Regions from separate parts of the Homo sapiens genome. Here region 1 is linked to region 2. Evidence: fine-mapped expression QTL. A gene starts in region 2. The other region holds a variant in brackets. All regions are shown on one strand. Distances are between the middles of the regions. Region 1 overlaps CFAP74 (cilia and flagella associated protein 74). Region 2 holds the start of CFAP74 (cilia and flagella associated protein 74).

What was found. PIP is the estimated chance that this variant, and not a neighbour inherited with it, causes the effect. A credible set is the group of variants that fine-mapping cannot tell apart.
Region 1: its variant is the best candidate, but not a certain one, in a credible set for the expression of CFAP74 in prefrontal cortex (BrainSeq, PIP 0.84).

The regions. Positions count from the first base shown.
Region 1 is chr1:1,920,135-1,929,623 of GRCh38, forward strand. CFAP74 (cilia and flagella associated protein 74) reads right to left here. Exons shown (of 39, transcript NM_001304360.2): 27 at 8,650-8,748; 28 at 7,473-7,612; 29 at 6,760-6,894; 30 at 6,518-6,627; 31 at 6,323-6,378; 32 at 6,094-6,213; 33 at 5,649-5,804; 34 at 4,257-4,386; 35 at 3,641-3,795; 36 at 3,233-3,365; 37 at 2,851-3,011; 38 at 2,455-2,589; 39 at 1,823-2,254. The coding sequence ends at 2,153. Among named protein-coding and RNA genes, the nearest start is that of TMEM52, 5.6 kb to the left of the region's middle. RefSeq lists enhancers at 1-509, 3,208-3,708 and a silencer at 2,123-2,307. The variant C/T (reference allele first, on the strand shown) is at 4,525.
Region 2 is chr1:1,999,581-2,009,069 of GRCh38, forward strand. CFAP74 (cilia and flagella associated protein 74) reads right to left here and starts at 4,206. Exons shown (of 39, transcript NM_001304360.2): 1 at 4,121-4,206. RefSeq lists a silencer at 4,070-4,364.

The DNA.
Region 1 (9,489 bases), 79 kb before region 2:
GGCCTTGGGGGCCATGCCCCACCTGGGGAATGTGACCTCCATTCCCGAGGGCCACAGGGAGCCCAGTGCCCTTCCCTCAGCCTGCAATGTCTGCTGCTCCCTGTGCAGGGGCAGGCCTGGGGCCATTTCTTCCAGGGGGACCCCAGACCCTTATCCCTCTGCCACCAGGCCAGGGGCCCTGTTAGGCTCTTGGTGCCCTCTGCTCCCCGTGGGACCAACAGCACACCGTCTCTCTGGTGGTCAGGCTAAGGGAGGTGGTCAGCACAGCAAGGGGCAGGGTCCATCTTACTGCAGGAGGGGCATGCACCCCTTGCTCAGAACTGTTCCACATGTGGGCGCTGCTCAGTGTCCCCCACCCCTACCACAAGGGCAGTGACCCTGGAGGGCAGGGCCTCCTCTGCGTGGCTCTTCTGCCCATACCTGCCCCTTCACTGCATCACTCCTTCCACTGTTGGGCTCTGCCTGAAGTTGCCTTTCACCTCCCAAGGCCTGTGCCACGGTCCTCAAGGGCCCTTCCTGCCTGCCCAGCTCCCCCAGCCCCTGGCCCTTCTTCCTGCCACATTGACTGCACTGGTCGTGGAGGCCCAGCACGGGAGTGGGAATGGGAGTGCATGTGCACAGCACAGCCTGAGGCCACAGCCCCGAGTTCCGGAAGGTGTGGGCACGGCCCCCACGCAGGAGCTGGGCGGGCCTCGCCACTCAGTACCAGAGGCCTGCCAGCAGGAGAGTCGGGTCAGGGTTTAGAAGAGAGGGGCCTATTCAGGAAACATTGCCATCCAGTAGCACCTCCTCCTGCGGCCGGGGCCTGGCCTGGACCTGGCGGAACCTGCCTTCCCCTCCCATCTGGTGTGGCGCAAGCTTGAGCCATGGTGGGTCGGCCGCAGGAAGGGCAGCAAGGGACCCATTGGACAGAAATCCTGCAAAACGCCACTGCGGGGTCAATGTCACTGGCTTGAAGTTTGGGGCAATGGCAAGTTCCTAGGCACTGTGGGCCCTGGGGGGCTGGGGGTGAGGGCAGGCAGCTCAAGACCGGCGTCCCTGAGGCCTGTGCCCAGGAAAGCTCCCAGAAGCACCATCTGCTCCCCCGACCCGGCCAGGGAAGGCTGCGTACAGTCTGCTGGTGGCTGCTGGTTGGGGTGGCACAGTGGGTGTGCTGCACTGACAGGAGGGCCAGGCTGGGTGGGCTCTGTGGGGACAGCGTCCAACAAGCCAGACTCCAGAGGGCAGGGTTGGGGTGCAGGCACCACTCTGAGCTTCAGGAGCATCTCACGGGCTGCGAGGGGTCTTCTCTGTTGAAGGGTGGGTCAGAGCCCAGAAAGCCGAGCCCAGACTTATCTCAGACAAATAGAGACTTCAGTGCAGGAGCTGGGCCTCACCTGGCCCCTGCTGGGTGGAGGGGAGGGCATGAGTAGGCTGGGGGGTCCCCACCGTCTGCTCACCTTTGCTTGGGGTCATCCGGGGTCCTGGAACTTGGGAAAAGTCTGGAGGTTCCCGGGGCCTGCCCTGGGCTTTGCAGCCCTGCCCTCCCCACCACCCAGGCCCCTCGGTTCTGGGTCAGCCTCAGCTCTAGCTGTACCCCGGCCCTCTGGGCTGCCTGCTGCTGCTCAGGGTGCCAGGCTTGGGGGCTCTCCTTGAATTTGGGTCAGGGTGGCCTCCCCACAGGTGTCCTGCAGGATGGCCCCACTCTAGGAGGCCCTTGCCAGGCAAAGCGGGTGTCATGGCTGTGAGGGGAGGGGCTGCTTCCCCAGGGCTCTGTCCCCACCTCCCATTCTGTGCTCACCCCAGGGAATAACCTGCTGTCACCCACACTGCAGGCTGCATGTGTTGGCCTACAAAAAATTTATTGACAGGCTGTGGAGGGCTCTCCTGGGGGCTGGGGGCTCTGAGGGGGTCTGGCTAGGATGGCTGAGGGCTGGCCTGGCCTTCTCGCTGCTTCTGAGTCTGGGGTCTCAGGAGGGGTGCTCTTGGATGTCCCTGGGCTTGCGGGGTCCAGGGCAGCAGGAAGTGGCCGTGGCGCCATGTGGAGGGCGGCCTATTGGAATCTGGCAGAGGATGGCCAGGTCCCAGGCTCTAGGGTAGTATGACCTGGCCCTCAGCCTGGGGAGGGCTTTGAGGGTGGACAGGAGGGCCCGAGGGTGCTCTGTGCAGAGGCTTAGGGGCCAGTCAACACCTGGGCTACAAAGATGACCTTGTAGGTCTCCTTCACATCCCCCCTTAGCTGCAGCAGGGCCGACACCATGAGTGGGTGGTCTGGCTGGAACAGGAGGGGAGGGGAGAAGAGGCCTTCAGTCAGTGGGCACCCAGAGGAGATCTGCTGTCTTCCCACTGCCCTGCCCACCTGACTCCCTTGGGTCCTCCACGGCCACCTCCTCCCCTGGGACTGGGCAGGGGTGTCAGCCCACCCAGCCTTTGGCGTTCCCAGGGCTCCCTGGCCTGGAGCCCAAAGGCACCTACATCAAAGTCCGCAGGTGGCACCCAGGAGATGCTGATGGTCTTCGTCTGGCCGCGCTCCACGGAGCCCCTGGAGGGCTCAATAGAGAAACCCTTGTGCTGCAGGGATGCGACGCTGTCTATGCTGAACTCAACGGTCTGTGGGGTATGGGGCTCCTGTAGGCTGGCGACCAGGCACCGCTCCCAGAAGCAGTGGGACTAGGGGTGAGGGTGCCCAGCTCCACTCACCCTCCCAGCTCTGACCAGGCTGCCCACCCCACAGCTGCCACAGGAAGTCCGAGAAAAGCCCGGCTGTCAGGACAAGCCCAGTGAGGGGCAAGGCCAGGAGGGTCAGGGCTGCCCAGGGCAGGGGAGGCCGAGGGGGCTGCCTGGTGTCCCCAGGGGCAGTGCTGTGGGCACCTTCTTTGGAGATGGCTGGGTGGTCCGGATACAGCCCACCTGCAGCTCTCGGGTGGCAGGTGGGGCTGGCGTGTCTGTGTCAAACTGGATGTAGTCCAGGGTCACCAGGATGGGCCTCAGCTCCTCAGCTTCTGGAGAGAGAGGGCCTGGCCGGGAGCTGGCTGGAGGGGTGTGGCCAGGGGAGCTGTTCAGGGTCAGGCTGAGGCATGGGGTGAGGCTGCAGCTGGACTCCTGAACTCTGGTTAGCAGTGGCTGTCCTGCTTGGCTCTGGGGTAGAAGGCTGGGAATCCCTGCCCTGCTCCGCTGGGTCTCGGGGCCCCCATCCACGGGACAGGGGCACCGGGAGGCCCCGTGTCTGTTCCCTCCCTGGGGAGGGGCTCACCCTCTCTGTGCCTGGGGTCAAATACAGGGATCGCTGTCAGAGACTCCACGGGCACGTCCAGGGGGTCGCCGCCCTCCACGAACATCATGTGCTGACAGGCGGCACCCTTCAGCAGGATCTGGTGGGAGATTTTCTGGGGACAAGAAGTGGAGTGGCCTTGTCCCCGAAGCTCGGCGGCAGGGGTCCTGCTGGTGAGAGCTGGGCTGGCTCAGGGAAGGAAGCAGGGACGGCCTGGGGGCCCCGTGGGGCCCTGGACTCTGGTCTTTCCACTGACGGCCCTCAGTGTGGTGCTGAGTCCCCCAGCCATGGTACCCTCAGGGCCTCCAAAGTGGAGCAGTGCAGCCAAAGGCAAGGCCCTGCGTGGGGCCAGGGCCGGGCCGGGCTGAGCTTGCAGAGCCAGAGCCGCACCTTTTCAAAGAGCACCACCTGGAGCTTGTCGGAGAAGTAGAGGCTTTCGTGGTCGGGGCTGAAGGTGACAGTGAAGTCTTGTGTCTTCCCGGGGTCCATGACGCCCTTGACGGGGGCCACGCTGAACACGCTCTGACCGTTGAGATTCTGCGTCCCTGCGGGTAGGGTGGGGTGCAGTTTGGCCTTCTCCACCTGCAATCACTGTCTGCCCTCCAAGCCTTGCTGCATAGAGCTCTACACCCTGCCCGCCCCCCTGCAGAGCCCCTGTCCTGCCCGGTCCCCCCAATGGCCTTGCGCCCCCCACTCCTCCCATGGATCCAAGCGCCCACCCCCCCCATCTCACCAACCGCCCCCTCCAGCTCACTGCCCACCCCCCCAGCTCACCGCCCACCCCCCACCTCACCAACTGCCCCCCACCCAGCTCACCGCCCGTGCCCGCCAGCTCACCGACCACCCCCCTCCAGCTCACCACCCGCCCCTGCCAGTTCACCGCCCGCAGCCCATCTCATTGCCCAGCCCCCTATCTCACCAACTGTCCCCCTCCAGGCCACTGCCTACTCCCCCAGCTCACCGCCCACCCCCGCAGCTCACCACCCACCCCCCACCCCCCGCTCACCGACCACCTCCGTCCTCTGGGAGGGCGAGCTGAGGAACTGCGGCAGCTGCTGCTGGCCCCGGCCCCGGGTGCTGGAGAGGCTGTCCAGGTGCATGGAGAACTTGATGGGGAGCAGAGAGTTGTTCTGCAGCTGCAGAGAGCAGGCCGCGGTCACTGCCCGCCAGCCCCTGCCTGGCTGCCCCCTTCCTGTCGTCGGTGCCCAGGACTTGGCTGGTGCTATGAGGCCACACCCAAGTGGGGACCCGGGTGGCCTGATGACGCCAGCACA[C/T]GTGGCGGTTTATTGAGCTGTGTGCCAACATCCCTTCTTCCAGCCTCTCATCAGCCTTTGCTAGGCCGGGGCTCGGCTTCCCTGCCTAGGGTGCGTGGACAGCTCTGGGGTGTCACCTGTCCTCCAGGGCGCCTGAGTCTCGCTCAGGCCCAGCTTAGCTGAACCCACGTCCCCACCTGTGTCCTCCCTGCCCTCACCCCCTCTCCTTAGAGCACCCTTTCTCCATGCAACGCCCGTCTCGGGCTCTGCCTCCAGGACCCGCCCTGAGCCAGGCGGAGAAGCAGGTGTCCCTCCCGGACCCACACTCGTGCGAAGGCATGAGGGCACACGCTGGTGCGAAGGCATGAGGGCACACGCTGGTGTGAAGGCATGAGGGCACACACTGGTCCAAAGGCATGAGGGCACACACTGGTGCGGAGGCATGAGGGCACACACTGGTGCGAAGGCATGAGGGCACACGCTGGTGCGAAGGCATGAGGGCACGCAGGGCAGGGCGAAGGCATGAGGGCACGCAGGGCAGGGCGAAGGCATGAGGGCACATGGGGCAGCGTGAAGGCATGAGGGCACACGCTGGTGTGAAGGCATGAGGGCACACAGGGCAGCGCGAAGGCACGAGGGCACACGCTGGTGCAAAGGCATGAGGGCACACGCTGGTGTGAAGGCATGAGGGCACACGCTGGTGTGAAGGCATGAGAGCACACAGGGCAGTGCGAGGCATGAGAGCACGCAGGGCAGTGCGGCTCACTGCAGAGGGCTGCAAACCCTTGCCCCCGGTGGCTGAGCTGAGCTCCAAAGGAGTGAGTTCAAGCAGCAGGGCAGGGGGTGGGTGGTGGGTGGGGGAGCTCTGTGCAGGGGCTGAGGAGGAGGGACAAAGAGCGCCAAGGAGGACAGGGAGGTGGGGAGGACTAGGGGACATCTGCAGCCTCCCCAGAAACAGGCCCCGGGTTCCCTGCAGGAGAGGGCGGCAGAGGCGGCAGCTGTGTAGAGGAGGGGTAGAGGGGGCCACCTGTGTCCCCACGGGCTCTCCGACCCACGGGTCACTTTTGACAGCTGGCCTGAGTCCTGCCTGGTGGAAACCCCTCCTGGGAGGCTGGAGCCAGCACCAGGGCCCACGTGTGCTTCACCTTGAAGCCTGAGGACACAGACTCTCCGGCAATCACATAGCCCATGTTGAGGACGCTGCCTTCAATGGAGCACGTGATCATGGACGCCACGCCAGTGCCCATGAGGGTGAGGGTGAGCGTGCCTCTCTTGGTGATGATGTCCAGTGTTTCTTGAGCCTAAAGAGACCACATCGCTCAGCCAGGAACCGATGTCTGCTGGAGCCACGAGGGGAGCTCTGCCTCAGGGGCAGTGGGTTCTCAACGCTGGAGTTGAGACAGCTCTGGGGGGGCTCTGTCAGCTCCGCTCACTTGGCGGCTGGTGTGAGGGCCTGGGGGCCAGGCTGCTCGCAGACCCAGGCTTAGTCCCAGGCCTGAGCACAGGTGATGCCCGCCCCGGCCAGTGCCTTTGTTCTGCAGTGTGGGGAGCCTTGGGCCGCAGTGTGGCCAGGGTGGGCCTGGGACTCACCAGGATGCTCTCGTGGGGAGAGAAGGAAAGCACCAGGACCTGGGTCCCACCTGCACGCAGCAGGCTGGAGTGGTTCAGCAGGACAAAGGGGCCGTTGGGGTTCAGCAGGGAGAAGTCCAGCTGAGGGTCCACGTCAAGGAGGGGATACAGGTGTCTGCAGGCTCTACCACGCCCTCCCCGGTCCCCGCTCCCACCCCGCAGGCCGCCTGAGCTGGGTGGACAAGGACACGGCCAGATCCTCGGGAGAGACGTTCTGGATGGAGATCTTCTTGATACTGCGGTGCCCTGAAATGGGGCAGGGAGCGTCAGGCCCCAGCCCCAGGCCCCAGGGAGCGTCTCTGCCAGGGGTGGGCCGTGGGGCTGGGGGAGGCGTGGGTGTGCCTGGGCACCGGGGTGGAGGTGTGGGCGGGGCTTAGCGTCTCACCCACAGCGACGTCGCCGAAGTTAAAGATGGTCTTGCCTTTATGGGACGTCACCACAACAGATGGTGCCACCGTCGGGCACCACAGCTCCAGGTACAGGGTGTTGTGGGGGCTGGGATAGGAAGGGCATGCTGAGGGCAGGGTGGGCGGCCCCCTGCCCGCCCAGGCCCCAGAGTTGGGCAGTAGCAGAGGGACAGCGCGTTTGCGGCTGACCACACCCTGTTCTGGCCAGAGCACCCCGCACCTGAAGCTCAGGGGTTCTGACCCCTTCCTGTCTTTGATGTCGCCACTGGCAACAACACAGGGAACTACAAATGTGTCAAACTTCGCCTGGAACGCTCTGAGCAGGGTGGCTCGGGCGGCCTGGTACTCGTCGGAACTAGAAGGAAGTCAGAGGCTTGCGCTCCCGCCTTGCCCCCACCCACCATCGGCCCAGGCCGGACCCCTGCGGCTCTGCCTCAGGGTCCCAGGGTCCCAGGGTCCCAAGCTGTGGCTGTCCCAGTTGTGTCTGACAAACTGGCTTTTCCACCCTTCTCTGGCTCCTGTGGGGGTCTCATCACTCACTTCAGGTCCTCGTCAGCTGGTGGCTGGAGGCTAGGGGTTGGGGCAGGTGCCTTTGGCCCCTGGCTAGAGAGCCATGTTCCTTCCCGGGGCCACAGGCACCCATTAGAGCTTTCCCAGGGCTCATTCTGCACCCGGGGGGCTGGGTGGGGGGTGGTGGCTTTGCTCCCCACCCGTGGATTGAGGCTGTGTGCAGGGGTGTCAGGCCTGGGGAAATGGGGTGGGTAGGTCCCAGGAAGGCAGCACCTGGATCCAGCTGTGTCTGAAGGCATCAGTCCTTCCAGCCACATGGGTCATTCCGGGCAATCTGTAGGGAGGGGACTCTACAGGGGCCACAGTGGGTCCCACCAGAGGGGCCTGGAGGGAAGCAGGTGGGGCAGCCCCTCCTGGACCCACCTGGGCCTCAGCTCCCGCTTCCGCATCTCCAGGACGTGGGGGACAGAGACTTTGAACAGCTTGTCGCGGTTCTGTGCTCGAAGAACGGAGAATGACAGTCCATGCAGGTCCTTCCTCTGGGGGGCCATATTCTTTCGGAACTGTGGGGGGAGCGACTGGCTGTGGGGCTGTGCAGGGCCCTAAACACAGCCAGCTGTGCCCCGTGGCTCCTCTGCGGCCAGTGCGGGAACCGCGGGAGCCGCAGTTGGGATTGAATGTGGGGACGCAAAAGCCGACCGGCGCCCGAGGAAGACAGTAGCCAGTGCGGAGGGGCACACAGACCCCCACAGAGCTGCTCACAGACTGTGGCGTCTGCTTCACCAGAGGATAAACCGAGGCACGGAGTGAGGAGGCGGCCAGAACCGGGGTCCCCACCCTGGTGCCTTCCCCTATCTTCACCGCGGAAGGCCGAAGGCAAGTGCTTCCCCTCGAGTGCACGCCCAGGAGGAACCCAGGCCGGGAAAGGCAAACCCTTGGGAGGAAGCCAGGCCGGGAAGGGCAAACCCTTGGGAGGAAGCCAGGCCGGGAAGGGCAAACCCTTGGGAGGAAGCCAGGCCGGGAAGGGCAAACCCTTGGGAGGAAGCCAGGCCGGGAAGGGCAAACCCTTGGGAGGAAGCCAGGCCGGGAAGGGCAAACCCTTGGGAGGAAGCCAGGCCGGGAAGGGCAAACCCTTGGGAGGAAGCCAGGCCGGGAAGGGCAAACCCGTGGGAGGAAGCCAGGCTGGGAAGGGTGCATCTGGAGTGTGGCAGGAGCCTCGAGGCCACCTCCAGGGCCGGCACTTGTGGGGCAGATTCTGCAGGACACTCCGTGTTTCAGGTGCGCCTCCCGGGGCCTCCAGGTTGTTGGAGGGGCCCTTCATTGCATCCGCTGCACCCCTGGGTCACAGCCCCTACTGCCCCCACCTCCAGAGCCCACCCTTCCCTGCTCCCGCCTGGCAGTGCCTTCCAGAGAGAAGGGAGGGTCTTGGTGAGCAAGCTTTTTAACCTCAGATACAGCTCGACACGTGCATTGCTTGGGAAAGGTCTACCCTGTGCTCCCGGCACGTGGCCGGAGCCCCCCAGGACTCGAAGGCGGTGGAGTTTGTTCCTGCAACAGGCCCTTCCCCGACCTACGCCCCTCCTTCCCGGGCCCCACGCACAGATTTGGTCTCCATTTCTTTGTTCAGGAGTGGGAGGGCTTCCTGGCGGATCAGCTTCTCGGGCAGCACTGGCCGGAAGGCCACCTGGACCAGGCACCTCTGAGGAGAGACCAGCGTGGGCACAGGGGTTGCCACTTCCCTCCACCTCCCCGGAGCCCCTGCGGGCACTCTACCGTCCTCTGCCCGTGGACTCCCCTCAAGGTCACCTCCCCCTTGAGATTTCAGGCTGCGTGCCCCTTCAGGAAGCCCCTCCCTGACCTCTGTCCCCCAGGAGGCTGGGCGGGCTGCAGGCGGGAGCACCAAACCCTCTGGCCATGCAGGGGGCAGTCCTGTGATTGGAGGTGCTGAGAATAGAGTCCTGGACAGGCCGGGACTGGGTCCCCTGTCCTCGGGGCAGCAGTGACAGCTGAGCCTGCCCTTGCCTTGAGTTTGACGGGCGAGTCCCACACCCTAACCTGGTCCCTGCACACACCAGCCTTTCCAAGGAGCCTCCATCTTGGAAATGGCTTCCCACAGAAGGGTCCCTCCATGACAGAGCCCACAGGCAGTGTGCAGTATGGGGTTGGGGGTGACATGGTGCGGGAGGGGGAGAGGGTGGGGGGAGGGTAGGGGAGGGAGGGAGTGAGGGTAGGGAGGGAGCGAGGGGAGAGGGTAGGGGAGGGAGAGGAGAGCTGCATCTGCAGTAATGTGTGTGGGGGTGAGAACCATCACCGAGTGGCTTTCGCTAAGTTGAATGAAATCCATTTTGAATCACTGCATTCATTGAAATCCCATGTGAGCCAACTGTCCCTTACATGCCCTTCCTCACTTAGGCCTTCGGCAGCCCTCAGGGTCACCCGA
Region 2 (9,489 bases):
CCGAGGCAGGTGGGTCACTTGAGGTCAGGAGTTCGAGACCAGCCTGGCCAACATGGTGAAACCCCGTCTCTACAAAAAATACAAAAATTAGCCAGGCGCGGTGGCGTGCGGCTGTAACCCCAGCTACTCGGGAGGCTGAGGCAAGAGACTCCTTTGAACCTGGGAGGAGGAGGTTGCAGTGAGCCAAGATTGTGCCACTGCACTACAGCTTAGGCGACAGAGCAAGACTCTGTCTCAAACAAATAAACAAAACCAAATCTTTTGTTCAGATGACATCCTAGGGAAAGTTAAAGAAAACCTACAGGCCGGGCGCGGTGGCTCACGCCTGTAATCCCAGCACTTTGGGAGGCTGAGGCGGGCGGATCATGAGGTCAGGAGATCAAGACCATCCTGGCTAACACGGTGAAACCCCGTCTCTACTAAAAATACAAAAAATTAGCCAGGTGTGGTGCAGGCGCCTGGAGTCCCAGCTCCTCAGGAGGTTGAAGCAGGAGAGTTGCTTGAACTGGTGAGGTGGAGGTTGCAGTGAGCTGAGATCGTGCCACTGCACTCCAGCCTGGGCGACAGAGCGAGACTCCATCTCAAAAAAAAGAAAAAAGAAAACCTACAAAGTAGAAGACAATCACAGCACATAACCCAGAATTTTACTGTCAAGACCATGTAAGGAATATCCATGAATGGATAAAGACAGACAGCCCCACAGCAAAATGGGCAAAAGACGTCAACAGGCACTTCACAGTTAAGGACGTGCCACGTCCCCTAACACGCGCATGGGTTCGGAGGACCAGGACATGGGTTTTTTGGGGAAGGGGGAGATCATCCTGCCTATGGCACCCTCTGGCTCTGCGATTCCTCTCCCAGGAGCACACCCTACAGAAAATCCCACCTGTTGTGTTAGCTTCCCGGGGTCGCCATAACAAAGTACCACAACCTAGGTGGCTTCAACAACAGAGTTGTCTCACGGTTCTGGAAGCCATCGTCTAAAACCGAGTTGATGGCAGGGCCATGCTTCCTCTGAAGGCACGAGGGAAGGGCCTGTTTCAGGCCTCTCTTTTAGCTTCTGCTAGTTCTGTGGCTTGTGGCAGCAAAATTCCAATCTTCATAGGACATTCTCTCTGTGTGCATTTGTATGTCCAAATTTCTCCTTTTTATAAGGACACCGGTCATACCAGATGAGGCACTCACCCTATTCTAGTATGTCCTCCTCTTAGCTACTTACAGGCATCACTGTAAGTCCAAATAAGGTCATATTCTCAGGTCCTGAGGCTTAGAGACAGCCCCGATGGCCACGGTGCCACTGTGTGGATGAATCTCTCGCACAACCCCGAGGAGAAAAAGACAGAGGCCCGCCTGATGCTCTTCCTCTCCCCCTTCCCTTCACTGTCACAGTAGGTTCCCTGGGTAGGGCAGGTGGAGCAGGATCCACAGTGGCCCAGGCTGGGCTGTCGGAGCCTGGCTGGGTGAGGAGGGTGAGGGTATGTGGCTGAGGCTCAGAGCTGTTTGCAGGTGCCTGGCTGGGTGAGGAGGGTGCCGGTGTGCGTGGCTGAGGCTCAGAGCTGGATGTCAGAGCCTGAGAAGAAAGAGGGCGGCCCCAGGTGTGGTCCAGCAGAGGGTATCAGAGCCCAGGCAGGAGAAGAAGGTGTCCACCATGAGAGCCTCCCAGGCCAAGCCTGGGAGTGATGACATATTTGCATAGCTTCCAAATACCTCCTACAAAATGCTTGTGTTTTTGTTTTGTTTTGTTTTTCATTTTGTTTTTTTTTTTTTGAGACGGAGTCTCGCTCTGTCGCCCAGGCTGGAGTGCAGTGGCGCAGGGTCGGCTCACTGCAAACTCCGCCTCCTGGGTTCACGCCATTCTCCTGCCTCAGCCTCCCGAGTAGCTGGGACTACAGGCAACCGCCACCACACCTGGCTAATTTTTGTATTTTTAGTAGAGACGGTTTCACCGTGTTAGCCAGGATGGTCTCGATCTACTGACCTCGTGATCCGCCCTCCTCAGCCTCCCAAAGTGCTGGGATTACAGGCGTGAGCCACTGCACCCGGCCAAAATGCTTGTTAATTACGAAGGAAAAAAGAACTTCCCAGTGGAGATGTTGGCAGATACCACCTTAATCAAGAGCTCAAAGTGAACATCATCAGTAACGTGACAACGTGACCACTGTGAGCCACTGACTGGATGGAATGAACAGGCCACGGTGTCACCTCTGCGACTTTCCTGTCCGAGACGTGCAGTGGGAATCTAATCACGAGGACACAGCAGACGAAACCAAATGGAGGGACTTTCTCCAAAGTAATTGGCCCATGACCTTCAGAGGTGTCAGGGTCATGACAGCCAAAGCAAGGCCAAGGAATGTTCTGGACTGAAGGGGAATAAAGAGGTATGTGAGAATTCAGTGCAAAGTGACTCTAGGCTGGATCCTTCCACGCTGGGGCCCTGATGCAATCAACTGGCAAAGCGTGTTTGACAGGCTGAGGGGTAAACACGGCAACAGGCCTGTGTCCTCTCCTGACTCGGGCCATGTGTGGCTGTGTTGGAGAATGTCCTCGTTTGTGGAAAATACACTCTACAAGGGTGGGGGGCGACAGAGCATCATGAAGGCAACTTACTCTCAAATCCTTCACGAGAAGTTTTTTTGTGCTGAGCTTGCAACTTTTATACAAGTTTGGGATTGTTTCAAAAAATGTTAAAGAATGTATGTGGTATTACATAAAGTTTATATATATTATTAAACTTATATAAACCTTATATAATACCACACATATTCTTTAAAATTTTATATAAATAAATTTATATAAAATTTAAAATAAATGAAAGTTGGCTGGGTGTGGTGGCTCACCGCCTGTAATTCCAGCACTTTGGGAGGCGGAGGTGGGTGGATCATTTGAGATCAGGAGTTCAAGACCATCCTGGCCAACACGCGGAAACCCCGTCTATACTAAAAATACAAAAATTAGCCAGGCATGCTATAATCCCAGCTACTTGGGAGGCTGAGGCAGGAGAATCGCTTGAACCCAGGAGGTGGAGGTTGCAGTGAGCCGAGATCGCCCTGCTGCATTCCAACCTGGGCAACACAGTGAGACTCTGTCTCAAAAAAACAAAAATTTAAAGAATATATGTAGTATTATATGAAGTTTAATATATATTATTAAACTTACATAAAACTATATGTGGCATTATATATAGTCTATATATTTATATTATATATTGTTTATATAACACCACATATATTCTTTAAAATTTTATATAAAGTTTATATAAAGTTTAAAATAAGTGAAAGTTAACTATATTGTTTAGGGACACATGCATAGGTAGTAAAACTAAAGAAATTTATATATCATCTTTAAAATTTTATATAAATATAAAGTTTATATAAAGTTTAAAATAAGTGAAAGTTAACTATATTGTTTAGGGACGCATGCATAGGTAGTAAAACTAAAGAAAAAGTCAGCCATGGTCAAGAAGAGCGGGTCTGTGAGTGGCATGGGGGAGAGACTTTGGGGTGCTGATGAGGTTCTATTTCTTAACTTGGGTAGTGGCTACTGATGTTCGATTTATAACCAATCTCTAAGTCGCACATGCGCATTTATGCACCATCGTTATGCAGAGAATATCAGTCCATTTCTTTTCAACTGTGGGCCCTACAGCAGGCCTGCTTACTACCTCAGTACCTGGCTTATGCAGATAAAAGGAGTATTCCTTTAAGAAAAACAAAATACTAGAGGCAAATCAGCTTCCAAAACTAGGTTATACATACTAAAACTAAATGACTTTGGGGCTATGGACCATGCTCTCCTTTTTAGCTAGGCAGACACTCACGAGTCTTAACTGTTCACCAGACAGGCTGGCCCTTGATTTTTGTTTAATGTTTTTGTAAATGTGTTATAATAATACTTTATTATAACATCTGCTGCAAAGTCAGGGGCGGGTCCCTCAACAGAGGCTGTGCCAGCGCCGGGGTTCCCTGAAACGAACCAGGGACTAGAACTATTAACAAAGTCATTTTTCTGGCACAGCTTTCCGGGAAAGGCGTTTCATATGGGACGGAGTTCTGCCTGGGGGGCGGGGGTCAAACCCTTCCAGCTCAGCCCCAGGGTCAAACGCATCCGCCCCCACACCCACCTCTGGCTGGCCTGGGTCCCAGGTTCTCGGGCTCCGGAGGCACAGACACCCCGGGCTGCTCAGGCAGGCGGCGGTCCTTGGCGATTGCCCTCCGCGGCGCCGGCGGCGTGGTTTGGGGCGGGCAGCTCCATGGCAACGGAAGACTCCATCGTGGCCGGAGGGGGAGCCTCGCCCGTTCTGCTCCCCGGCTGGAGCGGGTGGTTTGGTCCGACCCACCACCGACCGCGCGGGCCGGGGCCGGGGCAAGGAGGTCGCGGGCCCCGAGGCGCGGCTGAAGGGCCAGGCCACAGGCCGCGGGGCGGGGACGTCTCCGGGGTCCCAGACAGCCAGGCCTGGCCCAGGGCCAAGGCTTGGAGGTGACAGACAGACTTGGGGGGCCTGGAGGAGCTCAGCACCGGCGCGTTGGCCCAGAGGACCGGGGCGGGTGCATGATGGTTTGGAGTCGTTTGTCAACCTAAAAAACTAGGAGGTTTCCCGTGAAAATGGGGATTTTCCTCTTCTCTTGCAAATGGAAGATCGGGCTGGGCGCGGTGGCTCACACCTGTCATCCCAACAATTTAGGAGGCCGAGGTGGACGGATCACTTGAGGTCAGGAGTTCGAGACCAGCTTCGCCAACATGGTGAAACCCCGTCTCTTCTAAATATACAAAAATTAGCAGGGCATGGTGGCAGCTGCCTGTAATCCCAGCTACTCAGGAGGCTGAGGCAGGAGAATCGCTTGAATCCAGGAGGAGGAGGTTGCAGTGAGCCAAGATCGTACCACTGCACTCCAGCCTGGATGACAGAGTGAGACTCCGGCTCAAAAAAAAAAAAAAAAAAAAAAAGACTTCTGAATGTTATGTTCCAGCAAAGGCTCCAACTGAAAAATTGTAAAAGTAAATAGCAAAGTCAGTGAGCTATGATGGTGCCATCACACTCTGGCCTGAGCGAAATCAAGACCCTGTTTCAAAATTAAAAACAGCAAAAACCCGGTTGGGCACAGTGGCTCATGCCTGTAATCCCAGCACTTTGGGAGGCTGAGTTGGGCAGATCACTTGAGGTCAGGAGTTCGAGACTATCCTGGTCAACATGGTGAAACCCTGTCTCTACTAAAAATACAAAAATTAGCCGGGTGTGGTGGCGCACACCTGCAGTCCCAGCTACCCCAGAGGCTGAGGCAGGAGAATCGTTTGAACCCGGGAGGTGGAGGTTGCAGCGAGCCAAGATTGCGCCACTGCACTCCAGCCTGAACGACAGAGCGAGACTCTGTCTCAAGACAAACAAACAAACAAAAAACAAAACGGAAGATGGGCCCAACATGCCAAGCCGGTTCCGACGTTCCCCATTGCCTTTCCCACAGTCCCCATCCCCCGCTGCCCAGCCCATCTCACTGTGCATCCTGTTACACCGGAGCCTCTTCTCGCACCGCTGGTCCGTGGGGGCCGTTTGCAATGGAGACATGGGAGTGTGAGGAAAGGGAGTGGTCTCTCACCGGGCCACTCTATGCCAAGAACTGGGCTCACGAGTGAATTGGACGCGTCCCCTACCCTGGCAGTCTTTCAGCCCGCCATGTGTAGGGCTTGCAGGGTGGCCGGCTCCTGATGCCACAGTGAGGCCTGGGAGGTCCTTTGGTTTTATCCTGGCCCATAACCTGATCCATCAGAGGCAAGACACCTTGCAGAATGCCCAGCACCCGTGAGAATGGCTGTGGAAAGTAGCTGGGTGACACCACAGCACCTCTGCACTCACCCACCTTCCGCAGTGCCAGATCGCTTTCCTCCTCAGAATCTGAGGAATAGAACCAAGCCACCATTACCAGCCCAGGTTCGCTTTTATAAGAGAGATTATACTTCTTCCCGACTCCACGGAAATGATAGGGCTTCTTCCTTATCAACTTTGCCTCCCTGGACCTTTCCCAATGAACTGTTAATATACTTTCTAGGAAAGGGCCGGGCACAGTGGCTCACGCCTATAATCCCAGCACTTTGGGAGGCCAAGGCAGGTGGATCACCTGAGGTCAGGAGTTCGAGACCCGCCTGGCCAACATGGTGAAACCCCTGTCTACTAAAATACAAAAACTAGCTGGGCGTGGTGGCGCATGCCTGTAATCCCAGCTACTCGAGAGGCTGACACAGGAGAATCACTTGAACCTAGGAAGCAGAGTTTGCAGTGAGCCAAGATCACACTACTGCACTCCAGCCTGGGCAACAGAGCGAGACTCCAACTCTCTCTCTCTCTCTCTCTCTCGTTCTCTCTCTCTCTCTCTCTATATATATATATATACTGTCTAGGAAAGAAGGAAAGGACAGTGACAGCCTGAGAACAGCCCCGTGTCCATGGAACTGGTTGGTTAAGGAAGCTGTGGAACAGCTACACGATGGAGGTCAGCTGTAAAGAAGGTATAAGGACCATTTATTTCTATGTTCTGCTGTGGAGTGACTCCAGAACATATTGTTAAGTAAAAAAAATTGAGCCAGGCATGGTGGCTTGAGCCTGTAGTCCCAGCTACTTGGGAAGCTGCAGGATGGATTGCTCAAGCCCAGGAGTTTGAGGCTACAGTGAGCTATGATTGTACCACTGTACTCCAGCCCTGGCAACATAGTGAACCCCATCTCAAAAAAGAAAAAAAAAATCCAGCCAGGTGCAGCGGCTCACGCTTCTAATCCCAGCACTTTGGGGGGCAAGGTGGGAGGATCGCTTGAGTCCAGGAGTTTGAGACCAGCCTGGGCAACATGGTGAAACTCTGACTCTAAAAAAATACAAAAAAAATTAGCCGGCCATGGCGGTGCACACCTGTAGCCCCAGCTACTCGGGAGGCTGAGGTGGGAGGACCTCTTGAGCCTGGGAGATTGATGCTGCCCTGAGCTGTGACTGTGTCACTGCACTCCAGCTTGGGTGACAAGTGAGATCCTGTCTCAAAAAAAAAAAAAAATCAAGATGCAGAAAAGTGTGTATAGTATTTATGTAAGAAGGAGCAGTGGCAATAAGAATATATATATATTTTTACATTAAAAAGGTTACTATCTGGGGCAGAAGGACACAGGAATAGAAAGTAGATCTCTTTAAATGTGCTTACATTCAGTTATAGAACTGTGTAATTAGAAAACCAAAAATAAATCAAAATAGAAAAGCATCTAAAACTTGGAGACAGAATGAAACAAATGAACCTAATTGTATGGCATGTGGGGGGGTTAGCCATACAAAAAAGGATAATTTTGAGTGACTTTTTATTTTTATTTTTAGACAGAGTCTCGCTGTGTCACCCAGGCTGGAGTGCAATGGAGTGATCTTGGCTCACTGCAACTTCCACCTCCTGGATCCAAGCAATTCTCCTGCCTCAGCCTCCCAAGTAGCTGAGATTACAGGCATGAGCCTCAATGCCTGGCTAGTTTTTTGTATTTTTAGTAGAGATGGGGTTTCACCATGTTGGCCAGGCTGGTCTCGAACTCCTGAGCTCAAGTGATCTGCCCGCCTTGGCCTCAGAAAGTAACTTTTTCAAAGAGACAATGTCTGGCTCTGTTCCCCAGACTGGAGTGCGGCGACTCCATCATGGCTCCCCGCAGCCTCCACCTCCTGCGCTCAAGAGAGCCTCCCACCTCAGCCTCCCAAGCAGCGGGGACTACATGTGTATACCACCATGCCCAGCTAATTCATTTCTATTTTATTTTATTATTATTATTTTTTGAGACAGAGTCTCGCTCTGTCGCCCAGGCTGGAGTGCAGTGGCGCAATGTCAGCTTACTGCAAGCTCCACCTCCCAGGTTCATGCCATTCTCCTGCCTCAGCCTCCCGTGTAGCTGGTCATTTTTATTTTTATTTTTGCAGAGATGAGGTCTCACTATCTTTTCCAGGCTGGTGTAGAACTCCTGGCCTCAAGAAATCCTTGAGTTGCAGTGAGCTGAGATGTGCAACTGCACTTCAGCCTGGGCGACAGAACAAGACTCCATCTCAAAAAAAAAAAAAAAAGAAAAAGAAAAAACAAATAAGTAATACAGGGAAGGTGGTTAAGTTTTGTGTATATTTTACCACATTAAAAAGTTTTAATCAGGCCATGCGCAGTGGCTCACACCTGTAATCCCAGCACTTTGCAGGGCCAAGGTGGATGGATCACTTGAGGTCAGGAGATCGAGACCAACCTGACCAACATGGTAAAACCCCGTCTCTACTAAAAATACAAAAATTAGCTGGGCGTGGTGGTGGGCACCTGTAATCCCAGCTACTCGGGAGGCTGAGGCAGGAAAATCACTTGAACCCGGGAGGCGGAGGTTGCAGTGAGCCTAGATTGTACCACTGTACTCTAGCCTGGGCAACAGTGCAAAAACTCTGTCCAAAAAAAAAATTAAATCAAATAAAATGTAAAATTGCATTCCTCAGTGGCAGTAGCCACATTGCAGGTGCTGAGTAGTCCTCTGTGGCCGGTGGCTACCCCAGTGGACAGCACAGACATGAAACAAGGACCCTCATTCCTGGGATTGTGCTGGACTACAAACGGTCACCAGTCCCGGTGCGAGGAGCACACAGACCATTGTTTCTTCCTGCCATTTCCCTTGAAAAGAAACCATGGCTTCTTGGAAAAATGACGGATTTCAGACATGAGGCAGAAAACATACAAGATGACCCCAGAACATCTCATCATAACAGCAAGCAGGAAAATTAACACAGATTCTAGTTTGTCTCGGAGGATCCATTTGCCAGTTTGAAGGGGCTCTCACTGGCGAAAGTAAGCATCAACTGAGTATCAAAAGGAAAAGTAAATTGCAGTGGATTGAAGCACTTCAAATATATTAGTGTCCACGAGTTCATTCAGCCTGGGCGACATAGTGAGACCCCGGCTCTATAAAAAATAATTTAAAAAAATTATCTGGAGCCGGGTGAAGTGGCTCACGCCGGTAATCCCAGCACTTTGGGAGGTTGGGGCGGGCAGATGACAAGGTTGGGAGTTCCAGACCAGCCTGGCTGACATGGTGAAACCCCATCTCTACTAAAAATACAAAAATTAGCCAGGCATGGTGACAGGTGCCTGTAGTCCCAGGGACCCAGGAGGCTGAGGCAGGAGAATCACTTGAACCCGGGAGGTGGAGGTTGCAGTGAGCTGAGATTGTGCCATTACACTCCAGCCTGGGTGACAGAGTGAGACTTTGTCTCAAAGAAAAAAAAAAAATGCTGGGCACGGTGGCTCACGCCTGTAATCCCAGCACTTTGAGAGGCCGAGGCAGGCAGATCATGAGGTCAAGAGATCGAGACCATCCTGGACAACATGGTGAAACCGTCTCTACTAAAAACACGAAAATTAGCTGGGTGTGGTGGTGCGTACCTGTATTCCCAGCTACATAGGAAGCTGAGGCAGGAGAATCGCTTGAACTCGGGAGGAGGAGCTTGCAGTGAGCTGA